Linked DNA regions of Homo sapiens. The protein of the gene in region 1 purifies or fractionates together with the protein of each later gene. This does not show direct contact. Each region holds a gene or a part of one and is shown on either strand. Other genes may lie near its edges.

Region 1 (7,466 bases):
CCCAGGAGTTCGAGACCAGCCTGGGCAACATGGTGAGACTCTGTTTCCAAAAAAACAATTAATTAATTAAAAAAATAAAGAGAAACAAAGATGTGAAAATGATATAAAAGTTTCTAATGGTGAATCTGTTTACAAAATTTTTTGTTTTATGTTAATAAACATTATTTTAACTCAGTTTTCCTCCCTTAATAAACAGAGAGGCTTAAATTCAGAGAACATTAATGTTAGCTCTTGCCTCCTTTCACTACATTTCACCACTTAAATGTGAAAAATGCATTTCCTAGTTTTTGTCATTTATATAAAGCTACTCTTATATTGTGAAATTCTGGGCTCATGGCGTTATGTAAAATGGAAATCATTTTTATTTTGACAAATCTATACACTATTCGAAATTTTTTCAGCTCCCTAAACTGGGTAGTCTTCCTGGAAATTCAAGATTACTTCAGTTGCTGGGTAAGAGATGCCTCTCCATGTCCTCTATTATCCATCCTCTTAGCCCACAAAATGGGCTTAGAATTACATCATTTGGTAAATCCGGGACATGATAGCCAAGATACAAGGATAGTGGCTTACATTCACCTTTATAGTCTTGCTCCCAAGTATGTCCTACAGCATGAATCCTAGGTGTCTTGTGGAGTTTCCAGACCAAAGACAGCTCATGCAGTGAGTGCTTTGACCCAGTCACCTGAGTTTAGCTTCTGCCTAGATTTCCACATGAATAGATCTTGCTGTCCTGCCACTGGGCAGAATTTCCACAGCAAAAAGACAATTTACCAAGTATAGTCACCACTATCAGATATCTGAAGAATAATTTTATTTAAAGTCTTGTCTACTGTGCCTTGTCTACCTGGAAACTTGCCCAGCTAAGAGTTTTCTACATTAAGATTGAGTTTTTCTGTGCTCTCTGGACCTAGAACTGCAGCTGAGTCCATCTGCACATCTCCTATCTCACACTTTCTCATCAGTCCTTGTCTTGAACTAAGTGCCAGTTTTAGCCTTGATGTCAATTAACTAGTCCTGTCGCTCTAAGGTACTAATGATGCCACTTTCATATTACAAAAGTCATCACAGAAGGATAATTTACTTCTTAGTAATATGAAAGAAATCCAGAATGCTAATAACATATGCGTAATATTTTCTTGAATTTTTGTATTCCATTAGGCTAAAACAACTAGGGGAAATGGTCTTCATATATTTTTTCATAATGATTGGCTAATCACGATAGAGTATAAAGTAAATCAAAGAAACATAAAATAGCTTGGAAAGAACAAAAGAAATGCAATTTAAAAATGTTTAATGACACTCCACCTACAAACATTGTTTTACAAATGTATTAAAGTTAATTCTCTTTCTAAAATGTCTTAGACTAGTAATAGGGTTGGGGAAAAAAATCTCCCTTTCCTTCCCTGGGCTATAATTTTACTTTTTAGGTATGACTACTGAGGAATTTCTAATTTGGCTCATCACTTCAGTGGGAATTCAGTGCACATAAGGGGCACATATGTAATTGGCAACCTAATTTTTCTGCTTTCATCAAATGGTGCAATGCCAAATCTTCATTGAACTTGCCAGTTAAATGCACTTGGGAACCAAACAGCAGCAAGCATACATGAGATTAAAATGAACAAATTGGAAAGAGTCATTAACTTTTTCTGTTTTCCTATCACAACAAAAATTGTATCATTGAAAGTGTTGCAAAGTGGGGAATTCTACTTGAAACATTAAACAATCTTAAAAGAGAATAATTCATTTACTTAACTTCTAAAATGTGGTTCATTATAATTTATAAATGGGGTTTCTAGTGCAGATTTTTTTCAACAAAAATACAAAATCATTAAAATGAATAAACTTTTCAGGAGTATGTTTTAAGTTATATGTTTCACATGTCTTTCTGGTCTAGTGCATATAAATTCTAGCCTTTATTTGGAAAGAAAAATTGTCAGAAAATTAAGCAAGAAATGTTGGCTTCCTGTAATACCGTAATGAATAAAGGCAATTGACAGCTTTTCATGGTTCTCAGTAATTATGAATGGAACTGAGAGTGTAAAAATTACTATCATTTGTGGTTACCAAAAATGCCCTTGAAATATCTGGTCTAATATATAATTTTGAAGTATGCAATATACAGTCATAATCAAATTATTGTTATTAATGACAATTAAATAGAGAACCAGGACACTGAAAACACCACAAACTTGCTGAATATGATTGAGTATCATCCCTTTAGGAGGACATAACCTTTTAAAATGTCTGTTTACGGCTCTCAAACCACCTATGTATTCACTAGATGCAAATGTTCAGTAATATCTCCTCTACAAAATTTCGTTTTACAATGACACCAGGTTTCTTTCAGAAAGGACTGTGTAGGAAAGTTTTCTTTTTCCATTTATGAGTTCAAGTATGTTAAGACTTTTTAAATTGTTGACCAGCCCTAAAAAACATTAACATTTCATAAATCGCTCTTGCATTGTAAAAAGAAGGAGGGAGGTAGAAGAAAAATGCCAAAGGATTGTAGGTCAGCTTATTTCATAAACAAAAGCTCTAAGGAAAGTCCTGAGATTTTTAAGTAAGCCAGGCCTTCTGAATGGGACATGATATGGACAGTAGAATAAGACAGATTGAGTTCCATTGACATTATTTATTCTTTGTATGATCTTAGGTTATCTACACACACTTTCAAAATTTAACTTTCTTGGTCTGTAAAATTGAGGAAATAATAATAGCTGTCCCATAGGGCACACTATCAATCCCAATATGCTTTGTTAGTCCATTCATTTTTCCAGTGCTTAATCAAAGAAGCTTTAATGGCCTATATACTTATATTATTGATATATTCACGCACCTGTCCCAACTTGCTGTCCTTTCCAATATCACTTTGTTTTTATCACACTCCTTAATATCACTTCTTTGTTAGGTCTTGATCACATGCTTAAATCATTTTTAATGTTTGCTAAACTCTGTATGAGAGATTGAAGAATTACGAGACAGGAACATCAATGTGAAAGGGTAAAATATGTGGAGAATATATAAGGTGCCAGCATATGACAAAACCCTAAAGATGTACGATGGTCACAAGCCATGGAAGAAGATAGGACAACTGAATTGTCAACCTTGCCGCCTCCTCCGTAGCCTCCTAAATCTTATCTTCCTTTTGTCTAATTTATGAAAAATGTTTCCTATAATTGTCTCCCAAAAGCAGAGTTGTCCCCATGCTGTAATATACATTGACCACTCAGATTCATTTAAAAAATACATCTTGCTTTTATTCCCAATATAACCACATTTCAGAAGTTAGATCATAGCCAGTTAGATTACACAGAGCGTGCGCACGCGCACGCGCACACACAAACACACCTTGAAAAAACTGTAGATCACTTGATTTCTGGAAGTTTTTCTCAATACCTCAGTGCACCTGATCACAACATCTTGTAATCTGGGCAGAAGGTAAGGGAGGTGATGTTAGGCGTACAAACTTAATATTGGGGATGCATTTTCTACCTAGAAATGGTCCTACATTCTACCAGAATGGGTTAAAAACAGATGCGCGCGCGCACACACACACACACACACACACAGAATTAAATGCACTACATTTGCTGTATTGCCTGCTAAAGGCATAAATATACTGGAGTGGAGATAAAGAAGGGGATGGATGGGAAAGAGTTCAGTACTTAGTGTAAACCTGAAAGGAAATGAGGCAGTGCAAGGGGAGAGAGGATCAGGGGAAAATAAATTATGTAGGCAACAGAACCATGCATCAAAAGTCTTTTCGATTTCTAAACTGGCAAATTTTCTCCAGGGGACCATCAGTCAAATGATGTCAAATTGAGCTGATTCTCTTGTAATGCCTGTATTGTGTAGGGCCTTCCTTGTAGGAACACAAGTTCCACTCTCGGACACAGTCGCAGTGCTTGCATTATCTTACAGAATTGATTGCTGCAAATGGTTCCTGGGAGGTGTGACCTGCTTAAAGGAAAGAAGCTAGGTTTCTTTTCTTGTTACTGAGGAATGAAGACACTTGTCAGGATGTGAATTGTGTGGGTGAGAAGGAAAAGCGGCGAAAGAATCTGGTAATTCCTTCCCTTACAGGAGGAAGAGAAAAAAGATAACATCGGAACCTTGGAGAGGAGAAATACAGTGCATTTATTTCCAGCATCCCCGCAGTCACTTCACGTCTCTTCAGACTTCCCCTATTCTTTAGTCTTGACCTGCCTATGCACTTGAACTCCACATAAGCACTAGGATGGACTGGGGGAAAAGGCCAGGTCAGCACGGTGGGATACTGCTTCCCCTAAAATGAAAACTCAGCAGCGGGCCAGCAGTGGGTGTGCGCGCGTCGATGCCAGAGGATGCGTGCGTGGAATCCGGCGGACGCAGTGGGCCGGGCACCGCCCTCCAAGCCGCCCCGCCCAGCCCACCACACTCCTCCTTGTATAAAGGCCGCGCTTGGGCCCGCCCTCCTCACAGCCCCGGAGCGCGGCCTGCCGGGGAGGTGGATCTCGCGCTCCCCACACAGTCACACTCCGCGCACTCACACACTTGGAAGCGCCTCCCCACGTCCCTCCCCTGCCCTCCTCTTGCTCTGCTCTTCTCTCCCTCACCACAAATAGTCGCCGACCTACTGCCAATCCGCCTCTCCTCTCTCTCTCTCTCTGTCTCAACATGACTGACTGGGAAGCGGTGGCTCGGGCAGAGCAGCTCCGCTGGCGCAGGCAGGAGGAGCAGGAGGATTATTAAATAACGCAGCTGGACTCTGTGCAACTGGGAGTGGAGAGGAGCCCAACAGCCGAGAAGGGGAGGGAGGGCAGAGGAGGGGGACCAGGAAGGACACCCCCGTGCCCCGAAGACATAAATCCCTGAGTGCCCGGGAGGAGCCTTAACAAGCGCACGGAGCCCTCAAGGTAGTAACGCCCCTGGTGCCTCAGCGCTCAGCGGGTCGCGCGTCGCGTCGCCGCTTTGCGGGGCCGGCCGCAGGCGGACGCGGGGATGACCGCTCGGCAGGTGACCGCGCCGTGTCGGGGCCGCCTGCGAGCAGCGCGCGCCCAGGCCCGGCGTGCTCGGCGCAGAGACCTGGCCTTGCGGGCGGGGTGGGAAGGAGGCGGGCGGGCTCGCTCACCACCGGCCCGCGACTCCCAGTGCGCCGCGTGGCCATTTCCTCCACGCTGCTGCGTGGTTTGCTGCCTGCGGCCGCGGCGGCCGCTCCAGGGCGATGCGGAGCGCTGGCCAAGGCGGCGAGAGTTGGCGCAGGCTTCGGGTCGCTCCCCTTCCTCGCCACTCGCGTCCCGCAGGTAGAGGCGACCGGTCAGCGCTGGCGCCCCGGGCTGCGGGTGCTGAGGCGGGGACGGCGGCGAAGAGGGGGAAGGGGAGGAGGGGGCGGGGAGCCAGGGGCTCCCGGAGGAACCGCAGTGCGGGGCCGGGACCACCTCTTGCCTCCGCCTGCTTGTCCTCTGGCGCCAGTTTCCTGGATTGGAAGCAAGACCCTGCCCAGAGGCAGCAGTAACGGCAGCGACTTAGATTGAACCACTTGCTTTGTGGTGGAGCGTCAAGGGCCCCAGGTTGTGTGCGTGTGTGTGTGTGTGTGTGTGTGCGCGCGCGCGCGCGCTCTGGACTAACCAGTGGGTTGGTTCACCTGAGCAGAAAGTCAGCCGTAAGCTGAAACCGCATGTGGCCCCCTGGCCCCTTCGACTTTTGGCTTGTGTCCCAGGGACTCGTACACACGGTGCCAGCAAGGGGTAAGGGTGACGGAGGGATTTGTGAATGGTGCTTCTGCGTGCGTGGAGGCTGAGCCTTGCTGATGTAAAGGAGGAGGTATCCAGAGTGAGAAGAAAGGCTATTTATGGCAAAGAGTTGTGAAATTTCTTGGGGTTTCCTTTTAGTGTATCCTGAACTGCTCTCTTTCTCTCTCTCTCTCTCTCCTCTCCCTGCCTCAGAATTAGAAGCAATTATGCTTCCCCTTCCTCTCGTGGGACATGGAATATGAAATGAAGTAAAAAAAAAACTCATATTTTTACAGGTAGAAAAAAATACTTCTTAGAAGTTACAGATTCTTTGCCCTTTAATGTTTTTATGTCCTCTTCTCCACCCCTCTTACCTTTTCAGGCAGTCAGTAGGACTTACAAGTCAGAAAATACCTACTTGGTTTCAACAGCTTTCATTTCTGAAATCTTTACAGTTGAATACCTTCCTATTGAAATGTAACACACATCCTCCCTTCTCTGCCCCTCAAGGACTATTAAAAATAATGTGTACACGTTTAAAGTAAAGCTGGTTTTATTAACAGCCTTAGGGAAAACGGATAAGAGGACACCTAGGTGGGGGTCAGTTATCACTGGTTCCTTCAAAACTGGTTATTAAGGGAAGACCTAAAATACTGGTAATCTAGGCTATAATATAATTTGTCTTGGTTTCTCTTTCTGTTTGCTTTATAACAGGTACATGTTCCAGATACGTAACTTGAAACTTAAAGATGCCTTGGGACAGTGCCTGTCACGGTGCTTATAAAATGAATGTTTTCTCTTAAAAGTAGCAACCTGTACTTTTATAGAACTGTGACTGGGTTTAGTAGTAGGACAGTATCCTTAATATTGCAAACTGAAATGTCTCTAAAAGCCTGCCAAGACAATGTTTTTCAAATATTGAAATTCCATGTTGTAACCACACTTTCAATAGTTTCACAGAGAAAAAAGAGAAGTTGGTCAACCTATTGTCAGAGTGATTTGTCTTCATTTAAATTAATTAGTTATTTTGATCAAAACAAACCAACTGTTGTTTGTATTGTTTTATTGCTTTCCTAAACAGTCCTGTTCTTTGAAAAACAAAGCAGAGTTAAGGATTTGATATTTTGATTTTGTTAGATTTATATTACTTTGAAATACATTTTCAACACGGAAGCATGTGCAGCTTTAAATATTAGGTTAGAACTCAGATGGAGAACCCCATTCGGAGGGTTATTACCTCAACTATCCCAAACTATTTGAACATAGATATAATAGGGAATTAAAAAATGTAATTGATGAACTGTATTATTGCAATCATTAAAAGTCCTATTTATGAGTATTTTGTTTTTTGACAGTTAAGAGAATCAGCAACTGTTTATTATTTTAAAGATACATTATTTATACCATAGAATGTTAATTTAGATAAAACAAAGTAGAAAATGAAAAATTTGTTATATTTTTACAGTAATAGTTATTCAACCCTTTATTGCATTTTATTACTCATCATAATGCTCATAATAAAGGGCCTAACGTTTGCAAAGTACTACTGTCTAGGCATTGGGGAGGAACGGGAGATTCCTTGTTCCCTGTCTTTCAGGAACTTACTTGCCATGTGGGAGGAATCTGATGCTCATGCTTGAGCGTAGAGTTAACAACCCGTAACAATAAGAGATTACATGTCTAATGAGTACTACAGGAGTTCAGAACATGACAATAACATTTCATACTGGATTTTGTTTGAGAATGCTT
Region 2 (7,027 bases), on another chromosome or scaffold:
TCAAAAATATTACTACGTGATGATTAACAATTTTGCTGTAGGGCAGAAAATACGCAAGAGGAACTCCGAGAATTCCAGGAGGGAAGCCGAGAATATGAAGCTGAATTGGAGACGCAGCTGCAACAAATTGAAACCAGGAACAGAGACCTCCTGTCCGAAAATAACCGCCTTCGCATGGAGCTGGAAACCATCAAGGTGAGGGGCTGAGAGGAAGTGTGCTCAGGTGTAGACAGGCGTCCAACACAGGCATGGCATGCTTGGCTGGAAGAAGGAACCCTGCAATGAGGGACTCCAGACCCCAGGCCCATGCTCATCTCTGGAAGGGCCTGTGCGGCAGACGTGATCTTTGAACTCTTTGTGCCTCTAGTGGGTGGTGCTTTTTGTTTTGTTTTTTTTTTTTTTTTGAGATGGAGTTTCACTCTTGTTGCCCAGGCTGGAGGGCAGTGGCGCGATCTTGGCTCACTGCAACCTCCACCTCCCAGGTTCAAGTAATTCTCCTGCCTCAGCCTCCTGAGTAGCTGGGATTATAGGCGCCTGCTACCACGCCTGGCTAATTTTTTTTGTATTTGTAGTAGAGACGGGGTTTTATGTTGGCCAGGCTGGTCTCGAACTCCTGACCTCGGGATCCATGATGGGTGGAGCTTTGAGAAGCAAGTCACACACATGTTCCCGTGGACTTTCTTGGTTGTGTACACTGATTTTATAGGGCACATGGCAGGGAGACTTTTTTTTTTTTTTGAAACAGGGTCTTGCTCTGTTGCCCAGACTGGAGTACAGTGGCTGGATTACAGCTCACTGCACCCTGGACGTCTCAGGTTTAAGCAGTCCTCTCACCTGGGCCGGGCGAGGTGGTGCATACCTGTAATCCCAGCACTTTGGGAGGCTGAGGTGGGCAGATCACGAGGTCAAGAGATTGAGACCATCCTGGCCAACATGATGAAACCCTGTCTCTACTAAAATTACAAATATTAGCTGGGCGTGGTGGTACACGCCTATAGTCCCAGCTTACTTGGGAGGCTGAGGCAGGAGAATCACTTGATGGTTGGAGGCTGTAGTGAGCTGAGATTGTGCCACTGCACTCCAGCCTGGCAACAGAGCGAGACTCCGTCTCAAAAAAAACCAAAGTCCTTCCACCTGAACCTCGGGAGTAGCTGAGACTACAGGCATGCGGCACCATGCCTGGTTAGTTTTTGTATTTTTTATAGAGACAGGGTTTCGCTGTGTTGCCCAGGCTGGTCTTGAACTCCTGGACGCGAGCAGTCCTCCTGCCTTGGCCTCCCAAATTGCTGGGATTATAGGCATGAGCCACCACCTGGCCAGGGAGACATTTTTAGGGTATGGAGGTGTTGCTAGAGTAATATCATCAGGTCCAATATTGTAGCCCTTAGCTACATTTGGCTGTTGAAATTTAATGAATTAAAATAAAAACTTAATTCCTCAGTCACAGTAGCCACATTTCAAGTGCTTAGGAGCCACGTGTGGCCAGTGAGTTTCCTTAGTGGACAGAGGGGCTGCAGACCATTTCCTTCATTACCAAAAGGTGTGTTGCACTCTGCCAGTTCAGAGCAGGTTTCTCGACCTGGCTGCTGTTGACATTGGAGCCCGGATCATCCTCCGTTGGGAGGGACTGAGGTTTGCTTTGTGGGTTTTTTGTTTGTTTGTTTTGTATTTTTGAGATGGAGTCTTGCTCTGTTGCCCAGGCTGGAGTGCAGTAGCGCGATCTCGGCTCACTGCAAGCTCCGCCTCCCAGGTTCACACCATTCTCCTGCCTCAGCCTCCCGAGTAGCTAGGACTACAGGCGCCTGCCACCACGCCTGGCTAAATTTTTTGTATTTTTAGTAGAAACGGGGTTTCACCGTGTTAGCTAGGATGGTCTTGATCTCCTGACCTCAGGATCCGCCTGCCTCAGCCTCCCAAAGTGCTGGGAATACAGGCGTGAGCCACTGTGCCCAGCCTGTTTTTTTTTTGAGATGGAGTCTTGCTCTGTTGCCCAGGCTGGAGTGCAGTGGCACAATCTCACCTCACTGCAACCTCCGCCTCCCAGGTTCAAGTGATTGTCCCGCCTCAGCCTCTTGAGTAGCTGGGATTACAGGCACCCTCCACCACGCCTGGCTAATTTTTTTTTTTTTTTTTTTTGAGACGCAGTCTCACTCTGTTGCCAGGCTGGAGTGCAGTGGCGTAATCCCGGCTCACTGCAACCTCCACCTCCTGGGTTCAAGTGATTCTCCTGCCTCAGCCTCCTGAGTAGCTGAGATTACAGGCACACACCGCCATGCCTGGCTAATTTTTGTATTTTTAGTAGAGATGGGGTTTCACCATGTTTTCCAGGATGGTCTTGATCTCTTGACAGTGTGATCTACCCGCCTTAGCCTCCCAAAGTGCTGGGATTACAGGTGTGAGCCACCACGCCCGGCTAATTTTTGTATTTTTAGCAAGGACGAGGTTTCACCATGTTGGCCAGGCTGGTCTCGAACTCCTGAGCTCAGGTGATCCGCCCGCCTCAGCCTCCCAAAGTGCTGGGATTACAAGCATGAGTCACCCCGCCTGACCACACTGTGGGATGTTTGGCAGCATCCCTGGCCTCCACCCTCTAGATGCCAGTAGCATTCCCCGCACCTCCAAGGTGGTGAAAACCAAAAGCACCTCTAGACATAGCCAGGTATCTGGAGACCCAGTGCTCTGCAAGGTAAAAACCATCCCTTCTGTACATGCTGTAGGGCTCAGCAAGGGATCACTAAGTCAACACCGTGCCCCAGAGACTGGCTCTCAGCCTTAGCTGCCAGCCAGCATCACTAGGCCAGCTTCATAAACATCCGACAGGCCTGAACCCTCTCTCCCCATCCCCATCTCCCCGCCTTGCTCTGAGATTCCATTTCTCAGTAAGTCTGGGTGGGGCCCTGGCATGTCTGTGTGGTTTTCTTTTTCTCATTAAACTCCCAATGTACATTTTGATGAGCTGCTTCATGGAAGAGTCAAAACTGTGTGTGCCCAGGGCTAGGTATGATGGACGGTGAAAGGGGAAGTGCTGGTTGCCTTCTTTGGGAAGACAAACCTAATGCCATGAAGCAGTTGGGGACGTGAAGCTCAGTCACAGAACTCTGATGTGGGGGCCTTTCAAGAGAAAAAGGACTGGCTGGGTGCGGTGGCTCATGCCTGTTATCCCAGCACTTCAGGAGGCCGAGGTGGGCAGATCACCTGAGGTTGGGAGTTTGAGACCAGCCTCACCAACATGACAAAACCCTGTCTCTACTAAAACTACAAAATTAGCTGGGTGTTGTTGTATGTGCCTGTAATCCCAGCTACTTGGGAGGCTGAGGCAGGAGAATCACTTGAACCCGGGAGGCGGAGGTTGCAGTGAGCCGAGATTGCACCATTGCACTCTAGCTTGGGCAACAAGAGCGAAACTCTGTCTCAAAAAAAAAAAAAAAGAAAGAAAAAGAAAGGACTGCATGGGTTGAGGGAGGCTGTGTGGAGGGTGTTTGTAGGTGTATGTGTTGCTGACACTTGGTGCTTGGGGAGATGGGGCTGAAGGAGAGTTGATCTGTACCCATCACAGACGTGGACAAGAATGGGTGTCGGGTGGACCTTGGCAAGCCCAGCTTTACTAATGTATAGGAAAGGGTGTGGGACCAACAAATGGATTGGGGGTTTGGGGCAGGGCGGAGGAGAGGTCCCAGACACGTTGAAGGTGGTCATTGAAGCTGAAGCTTTCTGTTGGAGACCACAGAGTGCAGCTGGCCGTCTGCAGATCCATCTGCCCCATAGGTGTTGTTTGATCGCCTTCAGGGGTTTTTGTTCAGCATTTCCCCATGAACGTTTTCCAGCATATAAGGCTGAAAGAATTTCCAGTGAATACCTGTGTATCCACCACCACCTAGGCTCTACCAATAATATTTCCCCTACTTACTTGCCTTTTATTATATATATTCCCCCATCCATCAAAATTTGTAAAGCTTCCTGTAAAAAGATGGATTTCTGGCCAGGCATGGTGGTTCATACTTGTAATCCCAGCCCTTTGAGAGGCTGAGGAGGGAGAATTGCTTGAGACCAGGAGTTCAAGGCCAGCCTGGGCAACATAGCGAGACTCTGTCTCTACAAAAAAATAAAAATAAAAAATTCATTGGACATGGTAGTGCACACCTGTAGTCTAAGCTACTCAAGAGGCTGAGGCAGGAGCATTGCTTGAGCCCAGGAGGTTGAGGCTGCAGTGAGCTATGATTGTACCATTGCACTCCATCCTGGGTGACAGAGCAAAAGTTAAAAAATAAAAAACCTGAGTAGTGGTTGTTTAGAACACACATTGTTGAGTTTCCCCCAATCCCCATATCCGTGACACGGAGACCTTAGTGTCATCTGCCTCTCCCTGTACTTGGCCCACTTCACCCATTTGTTAACAGCTGAACACCTGCTACACACAATGAGCAATGATTATCGTTCTTTTTGTTGTTGTTGTTTTTGCTGTTGGAGACAGAGTCTCCCCCTGTCACCCAGGCTGGAGTGCAGTGGTGTGATCTCAGCTCACTGCAACCTCTGACTTCCAGGCTTAAGTGATCCTCCCACCTCAGCCTCCCAAGTAGCTGAGATTACAGGCACCTGCCACACCACGCCTGGCTAATTTTTGTTATTTTTTGTAGAGACGGGTTCATGTGCCCATGCTAGTCTGGGACTCCTGAGCTCAAGTGATCCGCCTGCCTCGGCCTCTCAAAGTGCTGGGATTACAGGTGTGAGCCACTGCGCCTGGCTGATTATAGTTCCTAAATTGAAGGGGACTCTGGGTTGAAAAGCTGGGTAGGAGGAAGATTAGTGGTATGAACTGCAGTTTGGAGAGGATAACAGGCCCTCCATGGATCCTGAGTAAAATATCAAGAGAATTACTCAGTAATTCTCTGCTTCAAGACTGAGCTCTTGGGCCTGGCGTGGTGGCTGATGCCTGTAATGCCAGCACTTTGGGAGACCGAGGCGGGCGGATCATGAGGTCAAGAGATTGAGACTGTCCTCGCTAACATGGTGAAACCCCGTCTCTACTAAAAATAAAAAAATTAGCTGGGCATGGTGGCGCACACCTGTAGTCCCAGCTACTCGGGGGCTGAGGCAGGAGAATTGCTTGAACCTAGGAGGTGGAGGTTGCAGTGAGCTGAGATTGCGCCACTGTACTGCAGCCACATGTCAGATGCAGGAGACTCAGAGCACACAGCACAGTGAAGAAACAGGGTACCTTGGAATAACGAGGACCCTGCCACCAGCAAGTATTTGTCAGTCACCTAAGAGAAATATATTCAGCTGGGCCGGACTTCTTAACAACTGGCTTATTCATCACGGGTTGAATGAAAAAGCCTTTAAGGGACCAAACAGAGCATCTATTGATGCCCCCATCAGCTGACAGCTTATTCGAATTAGCCCCAAATGGCAGCACAACATTTCAGCAACAGGTTTTCATGTCCACAGGTTCCGAGGAGATCTCTCAATCGCCAGTGCAGTCGGTGGAGCCCACTCGCTGCGTCCTCCTGGAGCCTGCGTTTGAATTTAGGTTAATGACTTAAGATCCTGTTTTATTTGGAGATGTTCCCAAATAAAGGGTGTGAGGCGATGAGAGCCACGCCTGGGAACAGGGCCTGGTCTGCCTCTACTTGCTGGGTGCAGATACTTCTCTGCTTACAGCCAGGAAATGGGGAGGGTGCTGCGGGCGGCAGCAGGGATGTGGTCCGCCCTCCTCATCCTTCCAACGCTGTAAATCATCTGTTTGTTCTTTCTTTGGAGTCTTCTTGCACAATGGCTCTCGCCACGCCTCTCTGGCCTAGGCACCATTACATCACCCTGGGTGCATCCGGACTTTCTAGCAACGGCTTTGTTTACTTGATTGAGTAAAGAGAAGTTGGCCTTTTTTAACTTTTAAATTAGACCTTGCGCCTTTCTTGTGGGAAGTGTTTTCTCTTATGTTTGTAGAATCTAGGATGGGTGTTTTGTGTTTTCGGTTTTGATTTTTTTTTGAGATGGGGTCTCTGTCACCCAAGCTGGAGTGCAGGGGCACAATCTTGGCTCACTGCAACCTCCGCCTCCCGGGCTCAAGCGATTCCCCTGCCTCCCGGGTAGCTGGGACCATAGGCACTTGCCACCACACCCAGCTATTTTTTGTATTTTTGGTAGAGACGGGGGTTTCACCGTGTTGGCCAGGCTGTTCTCAAACTCCTGACCTCAAGTGATCTGCCCGCCTTGGCCTCCCAAGTAGCTGGAACTACAGCCGTGCACCACTATGCCGGGCTAATTTTTGTATTTTGGTTTCGCCATGTTGCCCCAGGCTGGTGATTTTTTTTTTTTTTTTAAGCGTTGGCCTGGGCTAGAGTGCAGTGGCATGATCATAGTTTACTGGAGCCTCAACCTCCTGGCCTCAAGCAGTCCTCCCACCTCAGCCTCCCCCATAGCTAGGACTGCAGGTGCATGCCACCACGCCTGGCTGTTCTTAAATTTTCTGTAGAGATGGAGTCTTCCTATGTTGCCTAGGCTAATATGCCTCTGCCACCTGAGGTGCTGGGATTGCGGCATGAGGCACCGCACCTGGCTCTGGGTGTTTGGTGAAGGAAAGTAATTTGGAAGCAGAGCAGGAATAGAATCGAGAGAGCACGGGAACGGGCAGGTGATCTGGATTGAGATGGTTTAGGGCTGGTTAGCATAATTGCTTAAGGACACCTGCTCAGGAGGCTGGGGTTTGGTCTTGGCCCAGTCATTTGCTACTGGTTGATTCTGGGCTAGTTAAGTAATTGAGTCTCAGTGTTCATGTCTCTGAAGTGGAATTAAACGAGACAACATAGGAAGTGTACTTAGCCTGGAGGCCAGCACAGAATAAGTATGTAATGGATGTTATTGCTGCAGCTGGCAACAGGGAATCATTGAGAAGTGCGCTGGACTGTTTCTTTGGTAATTAACAAGATCTCCCTCTCTGTCTCTCTCCTCTCCTTTTCTCTCCCTTTCCCTTCCTCCATCTTCTCCCTCCCTTCTGTCTTAGTTTTTGTTTGTTTGTTTTGAGATGGAG
Region 3 (7,027 bases), on another chromosome or scaffold:
ACCCGGGAGGTGGAGGTTGCAGTGAGCTGAGATCGCGCCACTGCACTCCAGCCTGGACAACAAACCGAGACTCCATCTCAAAAAAAAAAAAAAAAAAAGAGTGAGGTGCTTTGAGGATTCTCACCTGTCAGTGGTTGCCAACAGAATTATGATACCAAGAACATGAATTGTTTTAGGGTCTTTGACTTAGTGCATTTCCCCCACCTTCATTAAAGAGATACCCGAGTCTGCCTTCAGCTATTTAATACTTCCGCAAGATGGTTTTAGAAATGTGCTTTTATTTTAATACAACTACCCTTCGATGCATTTGTTTATTTGATTTCCTAGGACCTGATTCCTTGGGCATCACTTTCCAGGAAGCCAAGTGGGCCTTGGTGCAGTGCAGAGGTGGCCCTCCCCGAGGTCAAGACCAGGAAGCTGCTACCTGTTTATCTCAGGCACCAGGCTAACCACATACTTTGCTTAGGCCTTTAGCAGCCAGGAGGTGGGGGAGTGCACTTGGCCATAGGCCATAGCCAGCCTGGGGCAGTTCATCCTCATCAGGCTTCGAAACCCCTTTCCCTTTTTGTATTCTCGGAGCAAGCAGGAGAGGGGCTGTGGTCTCTGGAGGGTCAGGGAGGTGACATTGGCCACCAGAGCAATGACACACATGGCTGTGAGTGCCCGTAGGAGCATGAGCCCCAGTTTCTGGGCAGTTTTAATTGGGGGAAAAAATCCCTTTGGGCTGAAATCATATCAGCATTGTGATTTCAAAGGCAGCATTTTCAGAGATCAAGCACTTTTTCCCTGTAGTTTAGAAATTTCTGTTCTCAGAACTTTGACCTTCATATAATCAGAAAGCTCAAAGCACCTCGCATAGGCGAATCTCTCTCTCTCCTTCTCGCTGTCCCTGAAAAGCAGACAGTGAGCAGCAGGAGCAGTAATGTCCCAATTTTCCAGATGAGGAAATTGAGGTGCAGAGAAACTCAGACGGGTGTCTCCGGGTCTCTCAGGGGATCACACACCCTTCCTCCCTTAGGAAGCTGGCATTTCTCAACATCTGAAAAAAACGTGAGAAATAATCCACTAATACAAAAAGCTGCTTGAAAGCGACAACGCACCTGTGTTTGACAGTGTATAGTGAAGTAGCAATTAGCTGTGGGTATTGGGTTCTGAGAGCTGCATTCTATCAGGGAGGAATATTTGTGGCATTTGTTGTTTTTGCTGTTGTGTGTTTTTTGGTTTTGGCTTAGATAGTACTTGAATTGTGGATTTCAGTTTTTAATATGGTGAAAGTGTGAGATGGTAGATAGGATTATCAGTGCATGCAGAACAACCTCTTAGAATGTGATAGCCAACTATTAGATTTTTAAAAAATGTCTTGCAAAGATTCAGTTCCTCTGACTTAGCAAGTAAGTAGTGAAGGAAGCTAAACAGTCTGCCTATCTCATTTTAAAAACTGGGTTTTCTCTTCTGACTGACAGTGTTGCATTGATGAATCATAGCTGTTGCCCCAATGTCATTGTGACCTACAAAGGGACCCTGGCAGAAGTCAGAGCTGTACAGGAAATCAAGCCGGGAGAGGAGGTGAGTTCATGGCTATGGGTGGCTGCAGCAGGGGGCTTGAGACTGCTCTTTAAAAGGCAATGTGGACAGATCTGTGCAGTGTCACTTGACAGTATGAGTTGTGAATGCCTCCAGCAGTTTAGCTGAGTCTGCCCTCAGGCTCTCCAGGAGTCAGTGATCAGATTTGTAACCTGTAGTTTAGATTCCCACACTTTGGGGCTTCTGTTTGGTACATACATTTCCATCTCTGGTCAAGAAAAACAGGAAGTAATAAATTTGAGTCAAATTTGTCCCAAAGCTTTATAGAGATTTACAGAGAAAGAAGACATTTACTACCAAAATGACCACAGTCAAACTTTTGATTATCTTTAGAGTCTCTGTATCCCTATTGCCAAACAACTGAGCTTGAGCCTTATTTTATTTTATTTTTTTTGGTGAATTCTTGCTTGTTCCCCACCATCCCTCAAAGGTCCAAAGCAAAAGAAAGCAAGCAACGCAGCAGTAGCTAAAGAGCTGGCACTCCAAGGGACACATCAGAATTTCGTGTTCTATCAGTTCCACATCTGAACTTCAGGTCGCAGTTCACTTTTTAGGAATCTAAATCAAAAGTCCAGGTATATGCAGTAATAGGAGAAGTCAAGGCAGTCTGTGGCCAAGGGGCACCTTAGTTTCCCTCCTCAGCTTCAGGACGTGGAGAGAACCAGTCTTCCCATCACCTGCTCAGCGATTCCCTGTTCCCTTCCCATGTGTGATTCCTGACTACCTCATGAGACGTCTCACCTGGGAAGGGCTGGCCTGATGGATTGCTGTAGTATGCTCTGTGTTCTTAAGTAAATTCCCAGCAAGACACATGAGTTTTTAGGAACTTGTAATCACACTTGGGTTAATTTCAGTTTAGCAATTTGTAATGCTATTTTACGGTGCATGCCTGGGTATTTGAAGTGTGAAGTGTAAAATATAACTGTCAGCGTGCTGAATGACAAGTGCTTTGCTTTCTCTGGAAGGCACTCACTAATCCACAGCTGCACTGGGAGCTGAAGCCCAAGATGCAGGCAGGTTGGCCCTTCTACCTTCAGCTAAATCCATTACGATGAGGGTGTGTCCCCTTTCGGCTGGGGTGTCTGAGTTTCCAAAGGTCTTATGGAGACTGCTCTGAAGCCTTTCTTGAAACAGATAATTGCAGCCAGTCAGAATGCAGTCACCCAGGCTCCAGTGCACCTGTGGGCTGACTGCAGAGATGAGCAGGTTGTCACCTAAGCTGGCTCAGTCTGGCTGGGAGCAGTGGTACTGGAGTGGCCTTTGTCGCCATCTTCTGGAAGCTTCCGCATGTTGCACTGTGAGTCAGTCATTACAGAGATTGTTGGCAGGCTCTTGTGGTGTGAGGCAGGGCAGGGGTGGCTGCAGTTTCCTTTTGCCCTTATGTTCTCCCAGATCTGAAACGCAGTAACCTCATTTTTGGGAAGTCAGTGCTTTGGGGATTACTTACCCTTCAGAGAAGGAGAAACCCCATTCCCCAGGGTTTCGGGGTGAGCTGCAACGTGTCCAGTACCTCCCCATGGGCTGGGGAGAGCTTAGCTGCCCCTGCAGCACCCAGCCCTGTGCGTGTCCTCCCCTGCCTGCCTGGTGGTGCCCGTGGTCACTGGCACGCTAGCGGCTTCATGAGATCCATCTGTTCAGTCAGACATTTGCCTGATTGTGTGGGATGAGTAGCCAGTGCTGTCCCAGTGAGTAGATAATGGACATCTAAATGCTGGTCTCCTCCATATGCTCCAAGCCTTAGTTACAGACCCCATTAGGAAAAGGCAAGGACGGTGGAGCCCCATGAACCAAAGGTAAGGACTTTCCAAGCTCGCTGCCCTGCAGGATCAGGAGCTGCCCGCTGGGCCAGGCCGCAGCATTCTGGTGTCCTAGAAGATGTGTTCACCCTCCGCTGGCCACCCAGAGCTGTGGGTCCCAGCCCACTGAGTGGAGCCTCTTGCTCCATTGCCAGTTGATGTGAGGAGAAGGGGAGCTTAGCTGCATGTGTGTGGTGTGTGCGTGCTCATGCCCTCCCCTGCACGCAGCATCCAGTGATGACGGCAACGAAGCATTTGCGCCGTCTCAGGTGGTGAAACATGAAACTACATGAAGGCCAGGCAGAGGCAGCTGAGGGAGGCAGGGATCCTCTGAACCCTCCAGGACACTGTTTTAAGGACTCCTTGATTCTACAGACTCTTTCCACTAACCTGCACCTTGGCTTCAGCTCCCAGTTCAGCTGTGGATTAGTGAACACCTTCCAGAGAAAGCCAACGTCAGGTGGCTGCTCAGTTCAGGAATTCCGTGCCTTAAAGTAAACAGCGCATTCCTCCGCTGCAGCCCGCCTTATCCTCTGCATGGGCCCTGCAGGTGACTGCAAAGGCACGGGAATGACAAGGATTGAGTTTACCTGTAGCAGACTGAAGCTTTATCTTTTTGGACCCCGTAGGTTTTTACCAGCTATATTGATCTCCTGTACCCAACGGAAGATAGAAATGACCGGTTAAGAGATTCTTATTTCTTTACCTGTGAGTGCCAGGAGTGTACCACCAAGGACAAGGTAAGGTTGTTCATTGGGCAAGAGCGCTGACTGCACTCTGATCTCAGGACCTCTCTGCTGAAGAGCTTGTCTGACTTGGCGGATCTCCTCTAGGATCTTTTTGACCCTTTAAACCCTCCTTACAAAGACAGCCAAAGGGAATCTAGTTAGACCAGGTCTCTGTTCAGACCTGCTCCTAGTAGCTAAAGAAAACATTTCCATTACACTGTACAAACAGGAGAAAGGTCTGCCGAACTGCTCTTTCTTGAAAAGAAACAACTGCTCAAAGGAGGAGGGGGGAAAAGCACATGAGTATAATCTCTAGGCTTTCCAACCTGTTCACCAGAATATGTGGAAGTTTCCCTGGCATTTTCCAAATTGTTCCGTCAATGCCATCCTTCCTTATTCTAGTCTCTTGATTCGTAGATGTGTAAACACATATATCTGCCCATAGCCAACACATTTTAGATAAGGAGTATCTAGAAAATTAATCTTTTTGTTTTGTTTCTGTAAAAAGGTAATGGAGTACTGAATTTCTTCAGATGCATTGCCTGATTTCCTTTCATTCTTTTGTAACCTTGGAATGGGCCAGTGTCGACCGCTGTGTGGGAATGTGTATTATATGAGAGGTTTCCCTATCAGTGTGGTTTCCATGGGCGGTAACGCCTTGCCCTTGTGGACGTTTCCTTCAGGATAAGGCCAAGGTGGAAATCCGGAAGCTCAGCGATCCCCCAAAGGCAGAAGCCATCCGAGACATGGTCAGATATGCACGCAACGTCATTGAAGAGTTCCGGAGGGCCAAGCACTATAAATATATCCTTTACAACTGCCCTGATAGCTTATTATCCCTCGCCAACAAGGCAAGGTGGGAAGTTGGAAAGAGGGAGCAGGAGAAGGATGGATTTAAGATTCTGAAAACCAAAGGAGGAATGTCTCCTAGTAAATGTGTAAAGGCGTACTGACCACCCACAATGTGGTGTCCATCCTGTTGGAGTTGTATGATTTTATTTCCCCTTATTTTGGCTAGTTTGGCTGGGAGCCCCATGTGGTGGAGGACCATGAAGGACAGAGCCTTGATGGCCTTGTGCTTTGGGTATTTTACTTTGGGCAGGGCACAGTGCCAAGGGCCTTGCTTATTTCAGCTCTCCTCACTGGCACACTCTGAGCAGGGACTCTGCTCATTCCCATGCAGCAGATGAGGAAACAGCCTGATAGATATTAAGTAATTTGCCCAAAGGACACAGCTGATGGTGATAGGATCTAGGATTTTGTCCCAGCTCTATCAGAATCCATATTCTTAACCATTGTATTGTAGCATTTTCTTGGGAGTTGAAAAGGGATTCGATTTGTACTCTAAAGGGTAGAATTTAAAACCAGTGAGAGGAAATGAGAGAAAGGCACATTGTTTCTCAGCATAAGAAAGAACTTTGCCACAGTGGGAGTCGTGCTCAGGGTTCCAACTTGGGTGAGGATTTGAATTTGATTAGAATCGTGATTTTAATCAACATTGTTTACATCAGAACTAGGGGTCTGGACCCTGCGGCTAAAATTCTTGAGTTGAGCGGTTCCGACCTTCAGGTTTTCTTCATTTGTTTTTTCTGGAGAAATGTAATTCCTTTCACTTTTGCTTGGCTTTCTGTAAGTTACTTTTTCATGGGGTAAGGGTGAGAGTGGAGTGGACGAAATAACTCCTTGAACCCAGCCTGGGGAAGCCTCCAGGCAGCTTGGGCCCGGTGGCCCTTTCCTTGACTCCACAGCACCCCCTAGTGAGCTGCTGGAGATCTGCGAGCTCAGCCAGGAGAAGATGAGCTCTGTGTTTGAGGACAGTAACGTGTACATGTTGCACATGATGTACCAGGCCATGGGTGTCTGCTTGTACATGCAGGACTGGGAAGGAGCCCTGCAATATGGACAGAAAATCATTAAGCCCTACAGGTGATTGCAGAGGCTGTTCTAATCATCCACGGAGTGGAATTTGGTTGTTTAGAATGTATACGATAGTGTCATCTTCCTGCCCATTGCTGAGACTTGCCTAGCGCAGCTGCCTCTTCTCTGCACCCACATCTGGAGGTGCTGGTGCAGGGCACTGCTCCCGAGTCAGGCCTGTTCTCACCATCATCCCAAGGAGACAGGTTGAGGTTATGCAGCGGATACTGGGGCAAGATCCCTCCCAGGTCCATCCAGGGCCATATCCATAGTAGTTAACTCAGGCTAGTTTTGAGAAGCCACTAGTTTGCTTCTTTTCCCACCCACTGCTTCCAAGTTTAATTACTAAGTGGTGGTCTCAGAAACCCTGGTTTTCATCATTACTCACACCATCCCCTTCTTTTGCTTTTTCAAATTACAGCCCCAGTTTGCAAATGGGGAAGCTCTGGGACCAGTGGGTTGACCGTGGTTATCTAATCTCCCCACCCCAGGTTTGGAAAAAAGAAACAAAAATTGCTTTTTAATTTGTAGTAATAATGAATATTAGCCCTGGAGAGATTTCCTGCCTGAGAGGGTTACTAAACCTAAAAGTGGGTGACAGACGGAAGTTGTGGCTTTGTCCTCTGACTCGGACTAGACACTTCAGGGCTGAGGTGGCCTAGATGGGATCACTGGAGCTCTTTTTAAAGGCACTGATATTATGCATTTACAGGGTACGTCCAACACCAAGTGGGCCAAGTGAATCAGGGTCGCTGGGCATTAGACCCAGAAATCTGTGTTCTGGAAGCATCCCAGGTGTTTCTCAGGAGTTTGAGAAGCCCTCAGTCTCCTTCCACTTCCGAGATTAGGGTCTGTGAAGGTTGTGTCTGGTCTGAATGTCCACTGCCCACTCCACCCTCTACTTACCCCACTGTGCCCTGATTAGCCAGCAGGGGGAGCCCAAAGGAAGCCAGCTCTTAAAATCTGCTCTTGGAAACAGAATTTGTTAAATTGGGGATAAAC

The links.
Region 2: the proteins of CCSER1 (region 1) and NDE1 purify together in Homo sapiens (affinity purification with mass spectrometry; 2 studies listed by BioGRID and IntAct, with this or other methods). This does not show direct contact.
Region 3: the proteins of CCSER1 (region 1) and SMYD2 purify together in Homo sapiens (affinity purification with mass spectrometry; 2 studies listed by BioGRID and IntAct, with this or other methods). This does not show direct contact.

The regions. Positions count from the first base shown.
Region 1 is NC_000004.12:90,122,931-90,130,396, forward strand, and holds the start of CCSER1 (serine-rich coiled-coil domain-containing protein 1), read left to right. Parts: upstream 1-4,463; 5' UTR 4,464-4,901; intron 4,902-5,395; exon of another isoform or gene 5,396-5,555; intron 5,556-5,607; exon of another isoform or gene 5,608-5,732; intron 5,733-7,466.
Region 2 is NC_000016.10:15,667,245-15,674,271, forward strand, and holds part of NDE1 (nuclear distribution protein nudE homolog 1), read left to right. Parts: intron 1-41; coding exon 42-195; intron 196-5,164; exon of another isoform or gene 5,165-5,527; intron 5,528-7,027. UniProt on the Homo sapiens protein: Required for centrosome duplication and formation and function of the mitotic spindle. Essential for the development of the cerebral cortex.
Region 3 is NC_000001.11:214,326,159-214,333,185, forward strand, and holds part of SMYD2 (N-lysine methyltransferase SMYD2), read left to right. Parts: intron 1-1,463; coding exon 1,464-1,566; intron 1,567-4,009; coding exon 4,010-4,120; intron 4,121-4,791; coding exon 4,792-4,912; intron 4,913-5,859; coding exon 5,860-6,034; intron 6,035-7,027. UniProt on the Homo sapiens protein: Protein-lysine N-methyltransferase that methylates both histones and non-histone proteins, including p53/TP53 and RB1. Specifically trimethylates histone H3 'Lys-4' (H3K4me3) in vivo. The activity requires interaction with HSP90alpha.